2 linked regions of the Homo sapiens genome follow. Changing the gene in region 2 together with the main gene of any one other region gives a genetic interaction. Each region holds a gene or a part of one and is shown on either strand. Other genes may lie near its edges.

Region 1 (7,029 bases), on a different chromosome or scaffold from region 2:
GCAGCCTAATATAATTTTTAATGTATTTATTAGCATTGAATGAGACAGCAAATACTTTAAAGTGTTTGAAACAGTGCTTGGCACATGGTAAATGCTGAACAGATAGTAATACATACACACAACAATGCTATAGATTTTTTTCTTGTATTTTTTATAAAAGCATATATTTGTTTTCTAGTCAGAAAAAGGTTAAAGAATAAAGATTGATTAAAAGTAGTATAGGGTGGAATTATGACACTAATTTTCTATTTTATGTTCTCTCTGATGTCTGCATGCTTAAATAAACATTTAAGTAAATTTTAAAATATTTTTATATTTGAGGGTAGTGTGGCAGGAAAGATTCACAGTCAGGCAGTTTATTACTACTGGCAAATTACAAGTTTCACATAAAAAAAGCACATATAGTCATTTCTCCAAAAAACCTACCCACACCACCAATAAGGACATGAAAAGATATTCACCATCTTTACTATTAGGGAAATGCAAAGCAAAACCACAGGGAGTGAGATACCACTTCACACCAAAATACGGACAATAACAAATGTTGGTTAGGATGTGGAGAAACTGAAACTCTTATTTATGGCTGGTAAGAATGTAAAATGGTACAGCCACTGTGGAAAGCAGTTTGGCATTTCCTCAAATAATTAAACATAGAATCACTATATATTAATAAAACTATAGTTAATATATATCATATTCTTGGAGAAAAACATGCATTACCATATATGACCCTGTAATTCTGCTCCTAGGTATATACCCAAGAGAAGTGAAAACACATTCCATACCAAATCTTGTATGAGAACATTAATAGCCATATTATTTATAATAGCCAAAAAATAATACCTCACCTGAGGAATGGAAAACAAAATGTGGCGTATCCATGCAATAGAACATTGGCCATAAAAAAGGAAGGAAATACTGATACATGCTATAACGTGGATGAACCTTGAAAACATGCTGATTGAAAGCAGTCAGATTCAAGGCCACATATTGTATGATTTCATTTATATAACATGTTCAGAATAGGCAAAGCAGGTTAGTGGGTGCCAGAGGCTGGGGAGGAGGGAATGGGATGTAACTTCTAATAGGAATGGGGTTTTGTGGGGGTGGTGAAAACATTAGAAATTAGATAAGAGCAATGGTTGCACAATTCTGTGAATATATTAAAAACCACTGATTTATTTTTTCACTTCAAAAATGATTCTAAAGTACATTAGAGAGAATAAAGCTTAAAGAATAGCTGAGGAATTGTTGGGAAAAACAATAAAGAACACTCTACCATTAGATACTTACATGTTTATTAATAAGACAGAGTAATTAAAATTGTGATGCTATTTCAAAAATAGACTCAGTAATGGAACAGAATATAAAGTCCAGAAACAAATTCCAATACATAATATGTACATATTTCATTAATGATGAATATGGCATTTCACATAATTAGAGAAAGGATTCCCTGTTCAATTTGTGATGCTGGTAAAATTTATTGACTTTTTAGAAAATAGAAAGTTAGGTGGTTTTTTTTTTTTAATCTTAAATACCAAATTGAACTTTAAATGGAATAAAAACCTATATGAAGAAAAGAGACTCACATTATGCTAAGTGAAATAAGCCAAGCGCAGAAGGATAAATATTGCATGGTGTCACTTGTAGGTGGACTCTAAACAAGTTGAACTCATGGAAATAGTAGAATGGTGATTGCAGGAGTAGGGGTTGTGGTGGGGAACAGGGAGTTGCTGGTTAAAGGGTACAAAGTTTCCGTTAGGATGAGTAAGTTCTGGAGGTCTAATGGTAGAACATGGTAATTACTGTTAATAATGTATACCCAAAGATTTCTAAGAGCGTTATCTTAAATGTTCTTACCACAAAAAATAAAATACTTATGTGAGGTGATAGATAAGTTAATTCACTTGATGGTGGTAATCATTTCACAGTGTATACATAAAAACAATATGTCGTACATCGTATATATATATGTGTGTGTATACGTGTGTGTGTGTGTGTGTGTGTGTGTATATACACAATTTTAATTTGTCATTTATACTTCTTCAATAGACCTGAGGGAGAAAAGAAAAAAAAGAATTTTACTTGACTCCCAATCTTTAAAAAAAAAAAAAGAATTTAAAAAATCAGTTGCAGTAATATATCGAAAATAATATTTATAACACATATGACAAATAGAGACTTAATATCTTTAATATGTAAAGACCTCTTACAAACTCGTAAGAAAAATAATGACTATCACAAATAGTAAATTAGATAATTCATAAAAGTAGAGAATTAGGCAAAATAGGCAGTTCATAAATGAAGAAGCAAAGGAAAAGTAATCACACAAGAAAAGATATTTAGGCTTAATGATAATTAAGGAAATGTAAATTAAAATGAAATGTGATTCTTATTAGTGAAGATTAAAGTATTGATGATGAATTTAGGAAATAAGCATTAACATGTACTTCCAATAGGAGTATAAATTATACAGTCTTTCTGCAGGACACTTTATATATCAAGAACTTTATAAAGTTTTTTTCTTTGTTCCAGCAAGTATATTTCTACAAATTTCTCCTAAATAATTAGATATGTACATAGATTTATTTATGAGTGTTACTTATACAAGAGTAGAAACAAACACAGGAATGGTTAAATTCTGTTAATCTTGAGGGTGAAATATTTTACGAGTTAAAAATTATAGAATAATATTTAATGCCATAGGAATGTATTTATAATTGAAGTAGAATAAAATTGGTACAAAAGAATATCCCAGATTTTTCTTAAAAATAAACTCTGTGCATGTGCATACATAGAAAAAAACCTGAAAGATTTGTTTTCTGCCAGAATGTTACAAGTAGTGATCTCTGGCCAACAAAATAATGGATGATTTTTGTTTGCTTTTTTATATTTTCCCATATTATTGGAATTTTCTATATTGATCATTTTGTATCACTTTTATAATCAGAAGAAAACCCAAATACTATTTTTAAAAGTTTAAAGGACCTATGGCATATGTATTTTTAGTAGTCTTTCATTTTTAGCACGTTATCCCTCTTTTTCATAGCCCTGCATTTGCAGTTTTCTTGTAGTTTATTTATTCACTTATTCATGTTTTCATATGGAAGTAGGAAAAGAAAGATATTTAACGTATATCATACGAAGGTCATTTATCCCATCAGTACTGTACATTAAAGCCATATCTTCATATAGTATCTTTAGATCACTTAAAAGTTAACTGGATCACTTAAAAGTAATTGCTGTCTTTTTTAAAAAAATCATTGCCTCTATCTTTATATCTTTTTATTCTAACAAGAGAATACCCTGAAATTCCAGTTAAAGTTTCTAATATGCATCTTTATATCTTAGGGAAAAGAATATAGTGGATTTTCTCTTTAAAAGCCTAAGAATTTTTTTAAGAAATTGATTTTGTTGAAAATATATATATATATTTTTTTTCTTTTTTGAGATGGAGTCTTGTTTTGTCGCCCAGGCTGGAGTATAGTGGAGCAATCTCGGCTCACTGCAACCTATACCTCCCAGGTTCGAGTTATTCTCCTGCCTCAGCCTCCCAAGTAGCTGGGACTACAGGCATGCACCACCACGCCCTGCAAATTTTTGTATTTTTAGTAGAGACAGGGTCTCACCATTTTGGCCAGGCTGGTCTCCAACTCCTGACCTCAGGTGATCCGTCCGCCCCAGCCTCCCAAAGTGCTGGGATTACAGGTATGAGCCACCACGCACAGCCAGAACATCTTTTATATGTGTGCTATTTTTGCCTCAAAATTAAATAATAAACTGCAATTTTATACATAGAAATATCCAGTTAGAAATAATCTAAATGTTTTCATATTATATAAGTTCATTTTAAATAAGTGGAGTACTCTTTTCAATCCATGTTAAGAAGCCATGCCAAAATAAAAAAGCTGCTGTATTATAGCCAGAATGTTCTACAGGTTTATTTTTCAAAAATGTAATAAATGTAAGATTGATTTTTATTTCAGGTAGGAGTTTATCTGGTGCTATTTTTCTTCACCTTTTAAAATCAAATAAAGATACTGTTTTCCATTTCTCAGATACTTGCCAGCTATAGCCTCTGGAATAAATTTAGGTGGCTATGAATAAACTCATTGGAACTTAAAGGAGATGTTTAAAACATATCACTGATACAACTTGACTATCTTGGCTGGAAGTAATCTTACTATTTGCCTTATTTATTAAATTGTTCATTCATTTCATAAAATATTTATGTATCCACTTTGATGTCAGTAGGTATAGGGGGATTGAAGTATCAGATAGGAATGAATAAATATCTTAAAGCCCTCACTCACTGAGTTTAATGAGAATGAAGAGATGCACTGAAATTCTTTAATAAATGTGATGGAATACATAAGTACTATGGGGGTTCAGCAAAAGGAAAGATTCCCGCGGAAGAAAAATGGTGTAAGAAATGGAAAAAAGATCATGGTACAGGAGAAGGCATTTGCCTGGGACCTTTGACAAACAGGTAAAGGTGTCATTCAGCATTATGCTGTCTGTATTGTTAACTGTTCACAAATGTATGTCTTTTTTCCTTAGCTGGTCTGAAAATCCTCTGACGGAACGTGGTAGGCACTTGATATACCTTTCACTGATTTATGTTTGCGACCTGTCCAAGACACTCTCAAATAAATTATTTTTGCATAGGTGCTGCTTTTTAAAAAATCATTTCATTTGAAATTCTTTAGTTTGCAAGATATTGGTATCACAAAGATTTAAACAATTTGCTGCTGAATTTTCAGTTATTTTAAAACCCATTTATTATTACTGTTAAGTAAGTTTGAGACAGTTAAAGTCACGAGCTCTTGAAAAAATCTTATTATTAGTGCATCATGTTTTTCTACTAATCCCTTATAATTAAGTAGTGAGCAAGACAGACACGGTCTCTGCCCTCATGACATTTATATTGAAGAACAAATAATTTCACTGAGCCTATTGTAGAGATAATAAGTTACATATTATACACATTTATTAAATGTAAAATAAAGTTTATATCAAAGTAATCTGAGTTTATATTTTTGCTTTTACGTCAGCATTACTTGTAAATGAATACCCTAATGCTCATCATTATTTTAGAATTTTATTTTCCTTCTCTGTGTGTACCAATCAGAATGTGAGTAGTCAAGGTCTAGGGAAAGGATGACAAATGAGTCCTTAAATTCTTTAGTCTTAAAAAAAAATCTATCACTTTTATATGGGAAAGAGAAAATTCGCATGTATTAAGCTTCCACTAAGTGAGAGCACTGTGCTAGACATTGTGTACAAAATATTGGTAAGAATGGTCTTGTCAAAAAAGGAACAAATCAAAGAGAAATCAGAGGCAATAATGGAGAAAGAAGAACCTTTGGGAACTCTTCTTCTTACTTCCCTTTTTTCTTCTTAAAAGATTCTTCTTGATGAACTATCTTCTACTAAACATTGGGCATCTATGCACGTTTCAGACCACAGTGGATTTCACTACCGCCAGTTTTTGCTTAAGTCTTTGATTAGCCAAACTGTGATAGACAGTTCTGTGATGGAGCAAAATCCTTTGAGAAGTGAGCCAGCCCTAGTTCCTCCAAAAGATGAAGAAGCAGCAGTTTCAACAGAAGAACCAAGGATTAATCTTCCCCATCTTCTAGAAGAAGAAGTTGAATTCAGCACTGATCTTATTGATTCCTACCCAGGACATGAAACCCTTTGGTGTCATAGGTAAGAAAAGGGAAAATCTATTTCCTACACAAAACTGCATGTCTTCATGAGAGCTGCAGAAAGTGTTAGTTACACCTGATTCCTGCCTGCTTGGGTAAACATGGTCATCTGATTGTGGAGCTTTGCCTGAGTGAATACAAGAGGTTTTGTGTTACCATATCATCGTCATCATCATCATCATCATCATTAATAAGAGATTCCTCATGTAGATCTCTGCCTGCAGCTTAGGATGGTGATATTCAACCTTGACTGTGCAACAGAATAACCTGTGTTAGTTCCAAAATAAAACAGAATCAGAAGTTTTTTTGACTCCTTCCTTGGAGATACTAATATTTAGCATATCTAGGATGGATTGCTGCCATCTCTCTTTTTTTTTTTTTTTTTTTGAGATAGAGTTTTGCTCTTCTTGCCCAGGCTGGAGTGCAATAGCGCGATCTCGGCTCACTGCAATCTCGGCCTCCAAGGTTCAAGCAATTCTCCTGCCTCAGCCTTCCAAGTAGGTGGGATTATAGGCACCCACCACCACACCGGGCTAATTTTTGTGTTTTTAGTAGAGACGGAATTTCACCATGTTGGCCAGGCTGGTCTCGAACTCCTGACCTCAGGTGATCTGCCTGCCTTGGCCTCCCAAAGTGCTGGGATTACAGGTGTGAGCCACCATGCCTGGCCCTTTTTTTTTTTTCCCCCCTAGAAAAAGCTCAACACATTGATGCACAGTCAGGATTGAGATTTGATTAGACCCCAAGAATAAGGTATGCTTTATCATTTTTCCAACCCTGATGGTCTGCAAATTAACTTACCTGAAGTATAATCTCTTGACACTTTTTGTTTAAAGTGTAAGAGAATTTCTCTTTGAGAGAGGGGAAAGTCTGGTAGCAAAGAGTGAAAAAGGGTTAGCAACCTATCAACTTCAGTTGTGAGTACATTTGACAGTATGTTGGACTGAAGTCACATATGTGACCCCTTCCCAGCTTCATTTCTTTTGGATCTTCCTTTATTTGGAGGCATCTTCATCTTCATAAATACAGATTCTACTTTAGGCCATAGCATTGTATTTGTAAATGAAAGACTTGCCTGTGCTAGGCAGGAAGGAGGTAGGCATTGTTTAAAATTGCCTATTTCTAAAGTTATTGAGATTTTCTTTCTTTCTCCAGTCTAGTCTGTCTTGCAGGTTATTTGAGGAGACCTGGTCAGCTGCTTTTCCTTACTAAATATATTCAGAACATAAAAGATTATCTCCCCTCTTTGGCACCTTCATTAGTAGAGAACATTCTTTTTCTCTTAAAACCAAGACACTTATTTCATGTTTTCAAG
Region 2 (7,300 bases):
TCTTAATGATTTTCAAATCTTTTTGCAGCTATGTGGCTGAGCAAAGACACCCACAAAATTTCCTACAGAAGTATAACAAAAATAAAACAGATAAATCCCTAAAGATGCCCAAGTACACAATTCAGAATACCTTCCAATTTAATACACATCTTTAAGGAATGACTTTTAAGCTTTTAATTTTTCAAACAATCTATGCTCCCGACTCTATTCTCCACAGAGCATCAATGACATGAATTAGGACTAAATTGACAGATATAATCATCAGCATAAAAAACATTCTCTAATACAGTGATTAATGTAAATAAGATTTTTGGAATGTAATTTAAAAATTGTAAAATGAGTCTTCTGAAAGATACTTCAACTACCTGCTAGAGTTTGGTTTAACTCCTCCAAATCTCAGGTTGAAATCTGATCCCCAATGTTGGAGGCGGGATCTAACGGGAGGTGTTTGGGTCATGGGAGCAGATCCCTCATGAATGGTTTGGTGTCATCTTGGAGGGAATAAGTGAGTTCTCCTGCCATTAGGACCCAAGAGAACTGGCTTGTAAACAGCGCCTGGCACCTCCCCCTCTTTTTCCTTTGCTTTCTCTCACTATGGGATCTCCACACACTACTCCCCCACCATGAGTGGAAGCAGGCTGAGACTTTCACCAGATGCCCAGTCTTATAGTCAGCAGAATCCTGAGGTAAATAAACCTCTTTTTTCTTTGTAAATTACTCAGCCTCCCGTATTCCTGTATAGCAACACTATAAACACTATAAAGGAATGGACTAAGATACTACCTAAGATGATAAACATAAGGTTATATGGGTAATAGAAAAATTAAAACTATCTATTTATTTAGAATTGTTTCCAAAAGGATACTAATTCTCTGAATGAAGAAATCCCTAAGCATAAAAGCTCTCCACGAATCTGCGGTATAATTTTTTTTTCATTGTATAACACGACTTAAAATTATTTACTTCACCCAGACACGCATTTGTTTAAGCTGAAATTACCCATTTTTTGAAAGTGCGGTTCAGGTTTTCCTTAAGCCAAACACAACCTGGTTCAAAACGTAAAAATGTGAAAAAGCCTACCCCACCACTCTAAGAATCCCCATCATCCCAGAAAAAAGGAATACCCATCAAGCAGAATGACTTAAAGCTACATCTACAGATGGAATGGAACCACACACTTTCTTTCTTTCTTTTTTTTTGTTTTTTTTTTGAGACGGAGTCTCCGCCCAGGATGGAGTGCAGTGGCGCCATCGCGGCTCACTGCAACCTCTGCCTCCTGGGTTCAAGTGATTCTCCTCCGCCTCAGCCTCCCGAGTAGCTGGGATTACAGGCGCCCACCACCATGCCCGGCTAATTTTTTTGTATTTTTAGTAGAGACGGGGTTTCACCATGTTGGCCAGGCTGGTCTCGAACTCCTGACCTCGTGATCCTCCCGCCTCGGCCTCCCAAAGTGCTGGGATTACAGGAGTGAGCCACCGCGCCCGGCCATGGAACCACACATTTTCATCAGAGGCCTACTAAGGTTGAGCTAGTCTGTATCCCAAATTATCTTAGGTATTGTTCTTCCATCAAAGCAGGGCTGAAGATGCTCTTCAAATTACTGCTCCTACTGACAAGCATTCTGAGGTAGCAGTTATTTCCGACACAGTTAATAGCCTACATAAGTATTCCTGATTACAATAAGCAGTCAGGTCCTAAAATAATTGTAAACATAATCACACTGCTTAGCAAAAAGGAATGGATTTGTGATATGCTTCCACTTTCGAGACTTTTTTGCACAAGACGCTGCTGCTGTTTAATCATTCTGCCCCTCCGTATGTTTCATAGAAATCCTTGTTACTGGCATGATGAAACCTGACTTAAAATCTACGTAAGAGTGAACGCGGTCATTCAAATTAAAAGCAACATTCCAGAAGGCACTGGAATATGGGGAAAAGAGAAGCAAGTATGAGATAAATTTTTAATGAATGATTTCCAGAAGGCTCTCAAGGCTTTTAATTTTGTGCTAAAGCAACAGAAATTCTTATCTCTGTAGAACTATGTCACAGGGAACTTACGACTTTTTCCTTAGAGGGACCAGTAAGGCTGTGCTTCCACCCTGCAATAGTGATGATGATGTGTGTAACAGAAATAAATACTGCCCCAGAAAAGCTTAAGGTTTCTGAGCATCTCAAAATCAAATGAAAACTCCCTCTACTAAATCAAGCAATCCTGAATATAAGGGTGGCTTGGAAAGCTGCCTGTTGAAACTCCAGCGGTCAAAGTATGATTTGGGGGGGAAACGCGCACATGCAATCAACAAAGTAATCAATTGAACTTGCATCAAAGTTCACCAGGAAACAACAATCTGGAAAAAGAGAAAAAAAGTGATTTGATTTGAAGAGCACCGAACAAGTGCTGAAAAGTAGAGTTGGAAATTCACCCTAAGTAGGTTACATTTTGGCCACAGTTCTGTGGAAACCCTAAAAGAAAGTCAATCTGTATTAACAAAAATTCGGAAAACTTCATTCACACTACGGCCGTCCCACCGCGCTGTCGACATCCTCCCCGGGAATGCAGGGCCGCGGGCCGGCAGAGGTCGGTGCGAACGCAGCGCGGAACCGCGGGCGCCCGCCTGGACCGCGGCCGCCCCATCCAGTAGGGGAGGAGTAGCGGTGCGCGCGGCCTGTGCCGAGGCAACGCGGGCGCGTCCACCTGGCGACTGCGCGCCCCGGCTCCTCCAGTACCCGCGGCCCCCAGACCCCTCGCCGCGCGGCCCGTGCCAGCCGGGCCGCATCCCCGACGCGCAAAGCCCCGGCGGCCGTGGCGGCCCGGACCGCGGGCCCGGGGCGAAAAGAGGCTGTGTTGCCGCCTCGCCCTCCTTTCCCCAGCCCCAGCTACTCACGTGCCAAATGGCGAAGAAGATGAGCGCGGCAGTGAGCAGCAGCGCCAGCATGTAGCAGAAGGCCGCGAACGTGAACGCCATGGCTGGGGAGGAGGAGCGGGGAGCGGCGCCGTTGCCAGCGGAGAAAGGCGGCGCAGGGCCCTCTGGGTAAAACCATTCACTTCCCCCGGCCACAGCCGCGACCGCCACCGCTACCGCCGCGGCGCCAGCCCTCTCAGCGCGCCTGCGCACCAGCCCAGCCGCCCCGGCGCCCTCTGATGGCCGGAGTCTGCGTTGCACTGACATTGTCCGCACAGTTGTTGATTGATTTTTCCTTCCTTCTTGCGTTTATTCTTTCAACAAATATTTATTGAATGAATGCCTAGTTTGTTACAGGTACCGCGCTTCTCGCTTCAGATACAAAGATGAATAAGATAGTACCTGCACTGAAAGAACTTAGTATAGTGCCGGAAATGAACACCTAAATAAATAATTACGTTATTATAACCCCGTAAACGGATGTGTGTGGGATGCTCTGAAAGGTCAAAGAAGGACAGCCAGCCCGCCCTGGAGCATTTAGGCAGGATTCCTGCTGTAGGTGTTTCCTAAGTTGGCCTTAGATGATGATAAGTTCTCCAGGCAAAAAGAAGGTAGAACTGGCAGTCCAAGGAAACAGTTCAGAATGAGGAAACGCAACAGAGATGGAAAAAAGAAAAGAAAAATAAAGCTTCGTGTCTCAGGTGAAACCAGCAGCAATTCTGTATTAATGGAACCTAAGTGCAAGACAGTGGTGAGACTTAGAAATGAATTAGCAAGGGATCAGATCATAGAGGGCCTTATAATGCTTCATTACGGAGCTCAGACTTCTTATCCCATAAGCCCAAATTTTTTGCTCACCACACACAACTAGAAAGATTTTTTTCATTGCAACCCAGTGGAATATCATACAGACATCAAGTTATGAAGAGGTGGAAATCTAGTTATAGAGGCAAAGAAATATAGATATGACCAAAACAAAAATTTCACAAAACTGTACTAATGATCCATAAGTACTTTCCCTTCTCTCTTTTGCTACTTGTTTTTAATGCTGGTCTTAACACACAAAATTGATTCAAAATTGATTTAACTTTCCATTACAACCATTTTTAAAAGAAAAAAACTCTATTAACTGATTGCTGCTGATGGAAGAGAAAATCATTGAAGGCTTTTGAGCAAAAGAAGACCATGTTTAGATTTGCATTAAAGATCGTTCACCTAGCAAATTGCGTAGAATAGTTTAGAAGCAGGGTCTGTCCAGTGCTGTGCAATAGAACCTTCTGTGATGGTGAAAATTTTCGATACCTAAACATTGCCCAATACAGTAGCCACTAGCCACATGTGGCCATTGGGCACTTGTAAATTGTCTAGCATGACTGAGGAACTGAACTTTAAATTTCACATCACTTTAAGTAAAATGTGGCTAGTGTATTGGACAGTACAACCTGTACCACCAGGATTATGTGGCACCTGTGTGCAAATTATCAAGTTACTTTTGGCCAGGCACAGCAGCTCATGCCTGTAATCCTAACACTTTGGGAGGCCAAGACAGGAGGATCACTTGAGCTCAGGAATTCAAGACCAGCCTGGACAAGGTAATGAGATCTTGAGAGGTGACAGCGTGCTGGCAGTCCTCACAGCCCTCCCTCACTCTCGGCGCCTCCTCTGCCTGGGCTGCCACTTTGGCGGCACTTGAGGAGCCCTTCAGCCCACCGCTGCACTATGGGAGCCCCTTTCTGGGCTGGCCAAGGCCAGAGCCAGCTCCCTCAGCTTGCAGGGAGGTGTAGAGGAAGAGGCGCGAGGGGTAACCGGGACTGCGCAGGGTGCTTGCGGGCCAGCTGGAGTTCCGGGTTGGCGTGGGATTGGCGGGACCCTCACTCGGAGCAGCCGGCCGCCCCTGCCGGCCCCGGGTGATGAGGGGCTTAGCACCCGGGCCAGTGGCTGCAGAGGGTGTACTGGGTCCCCCAGCAGTGCCAGCCCACCGGCGCTGCACTCGATTTCTCACCGGGCCTTAGCTGCCTTCCCGCGGGGCAGGGCTCGGGACCTGCAGCCCGCCATGCCTGAGCCTCCCACCCCCTCCATGGGCTCCTGTGCAGCCCAAGCCTCCCCAGCGAGCGCCACCCCCTGCTCCATGGCGCCCAGTCCCATCGACCACCCAAGGGCTGAGGAGTGCGGGTGCACGGCGCGGGACTGGCAGGCAGCTCCACCTGCAGCCCCGGTGTGGGATATGCTGGGTGAAGCCAGCTGGGCTCCTGAGTCTCGGGGGGAAGTGGAGAACCTTTATGCCTAGCTCAGGGATTGTAAATATACCAATCAGCACTCTGTATCTAGCTCAAGGTTTGTAAACACACCAATCAGCACCCTGTGTCTAGCTCAGGGTTTGGGAATGCACCAATGTGCACTCTGTATCTAGCTTCTCTGGTGAGGCCTTGGAGAACCTTTATGTCTAGCTCGGGGATTGTAAATACACCAATCAGCACTCTGTATCTAGCTCAAGGTTTGTAAACACACCAATCAGCACCCTGTATCTAGCTCAGGGTTTGTGAGTGCACCAATGGACACTCTGTATCTAGCTACTCTGGTGGGGCCTTAGAGAACCTTTGTGTGGATGCTCTGTATCTAAGTAATCTGGTGGGGACATGGAAAACCTTTGTGTCTAGCTCAGGGATTGTAAACGCACCAATCAGCGCCCTGTCAAAACAGACCACTCGGCTCTACCAATCAGCAGGACATGGGTGGGGCCAGATAAGAGAATAAAAGCAGGCTGCCGGAGCCAGCGGGGACAACCCGCTGAAGTCCAGTTCCATGGTGTGGGAGATTTGTTTTTTCGCTCCTTGCAATAAATCTTGCTACTGCTCTCTCTTTGGTTCCACACTGATTTTATGAGCTGTCACACTCACCACAAAGGTCTGCAGCTTCATTCCTGAACCCAGCAAGACCACGAGCCCACAGGGAGAAACGAACAATTCCAGACGCACCGCCTTAACAGCTGTAACGCTGCGAAGGTCTGTAGCTTCACTTCTGAGCCAGCGAGACCACGAACCACCAGGAGGGAAAAAACTCCGAACGCTTCCGAACATCAGAAGGAACAAACGCCAGACGCGCCATCTTAAGAGCTGTAACACTCACCACGAGGGTCCGTGGCTTCATTCTTGAAGTCAGACCAAGAACCCACCAATTCCAGGCACAATCTCATCTCTATTTCTTTTTTAAAATAATAAAATCCAATAACATTTTTTGTAAAGTTACTTTCTGCAGATGGACAGAGGCCCACCCCAGAGTGTAGGAACACAAGCTATACTTCAGCCCCACCAACCCTGGTCGTGCACCTATGTGCAGTGCACAAACTGCCCAACTGTGCACAATGACCCTGATTAGAGGAGTGTTAGATTGGAAATCGGGTCCCACGGCAATGGTCCAAGCAAAAGTTGCTATGGATCTGAACTAGAGCAGTGGAAGGTGGGAAGGAAAGGGGTAAACATGCTTGATAGTAGTTGGGAGACAAGCTCAGCTGAACTTGATTAACTGGATGCCCTGGTGAAAGCGAAGAAGGAGGCAAATGATATTTAATTCAGTACTTAAGGCCACGGGCACGGCAGAACGCAGCATCAGGCAATATTTATGCAAGAGAACTCACAATCTAATGAAAGGCAGATGCAGCTTTCTGGGCTCGGGAGAGAGAGTTTGCAGGGAACTACTCAAGCCAAACCATGAAATCGAACCCCCTTTTTCCAGATGAATCCCATCTACAACTTGGGAAATGATGTTTCATCACCAGATACCAAGAAATCCTACCTTTTGGCAACAAGTTTTTCTCCGGCTTCACTTGAAATGTGTGTTTTCCTTCTCTGCTGACTAGGCTAGCACCTTATCTCATAGAATGAAACTGTCTCCCAGGCACCCACCCTTAATTAGAAGGGGCTACCCCTATTTCACCTGAGGAGAAAGGAAATTTGTAAGAGAAATTTTGCCTGCCTCAACCCCTACAGCGGTTACATAAAACCCAGGTTCCCCACCAACTTTCTTCAAGGGTAGCATTTTAGGTATTTCAACAAAGGTTTGTTGAGCACCTGTTCTATGCCAGGTGGAGTGCTGACTGATTCACACAGTTATATAAGCTGCAGTAGGATGAAGCCCCCTTCACATATTACCAGAGCACACAGGTAAACTTTAGGCTTGTGCTGTCTAATACAGGAGCCACTAATCATGTGACTATTTAAATTTAAATTAAGCTGGGCAAGGTAGAACACACCTGCAATTCCAACACTTCAGGAAGCTGAGGCACAAGGATTGCTTGAGGCCATGGGGTTGGAGGCTGCAGTGAGCCATGGTTGCGCCACTGCACCCCAGCCTGGGTGACAGAATGAAACCTTGTCTCCAAAAAAAATTTTTAATTAAAAA

What was found. Genes that interact genetically often act in the same process or in processes that back each other up.
Region 1: changes in CNIH1 (region 2) and PTAR1 are lethal when combined (synthetic lethality), as found in Homo sapiens cells (one study listed by BioGRID).

What each region holds. Positions count from the first base shown.
Region 1 is NC_000009.12:69,722,012-69,729,040, reverse strand, and holds part of PTAR1 (protein prenyltransferase alpha subunit repeat-containing protein 1), read left to right. Parts: intron 1-5,410; coding exon 5,411-5,715; intron 5,716-7,029.
Region 2 is NC_000014.9:54,438,363-54,445,662, forward strand, and holds the start of CNIH1 (protein cornichon homolog 1), read right to left. Parts: upstream 3,013-7,300; 5' UTR 2,966-3,012; coding exon 2,885-2,965; intron 1-2,884. UniProt on the Homo sapiens protein: Involved in the selective transport and maturation of TGF-alpha family proteins.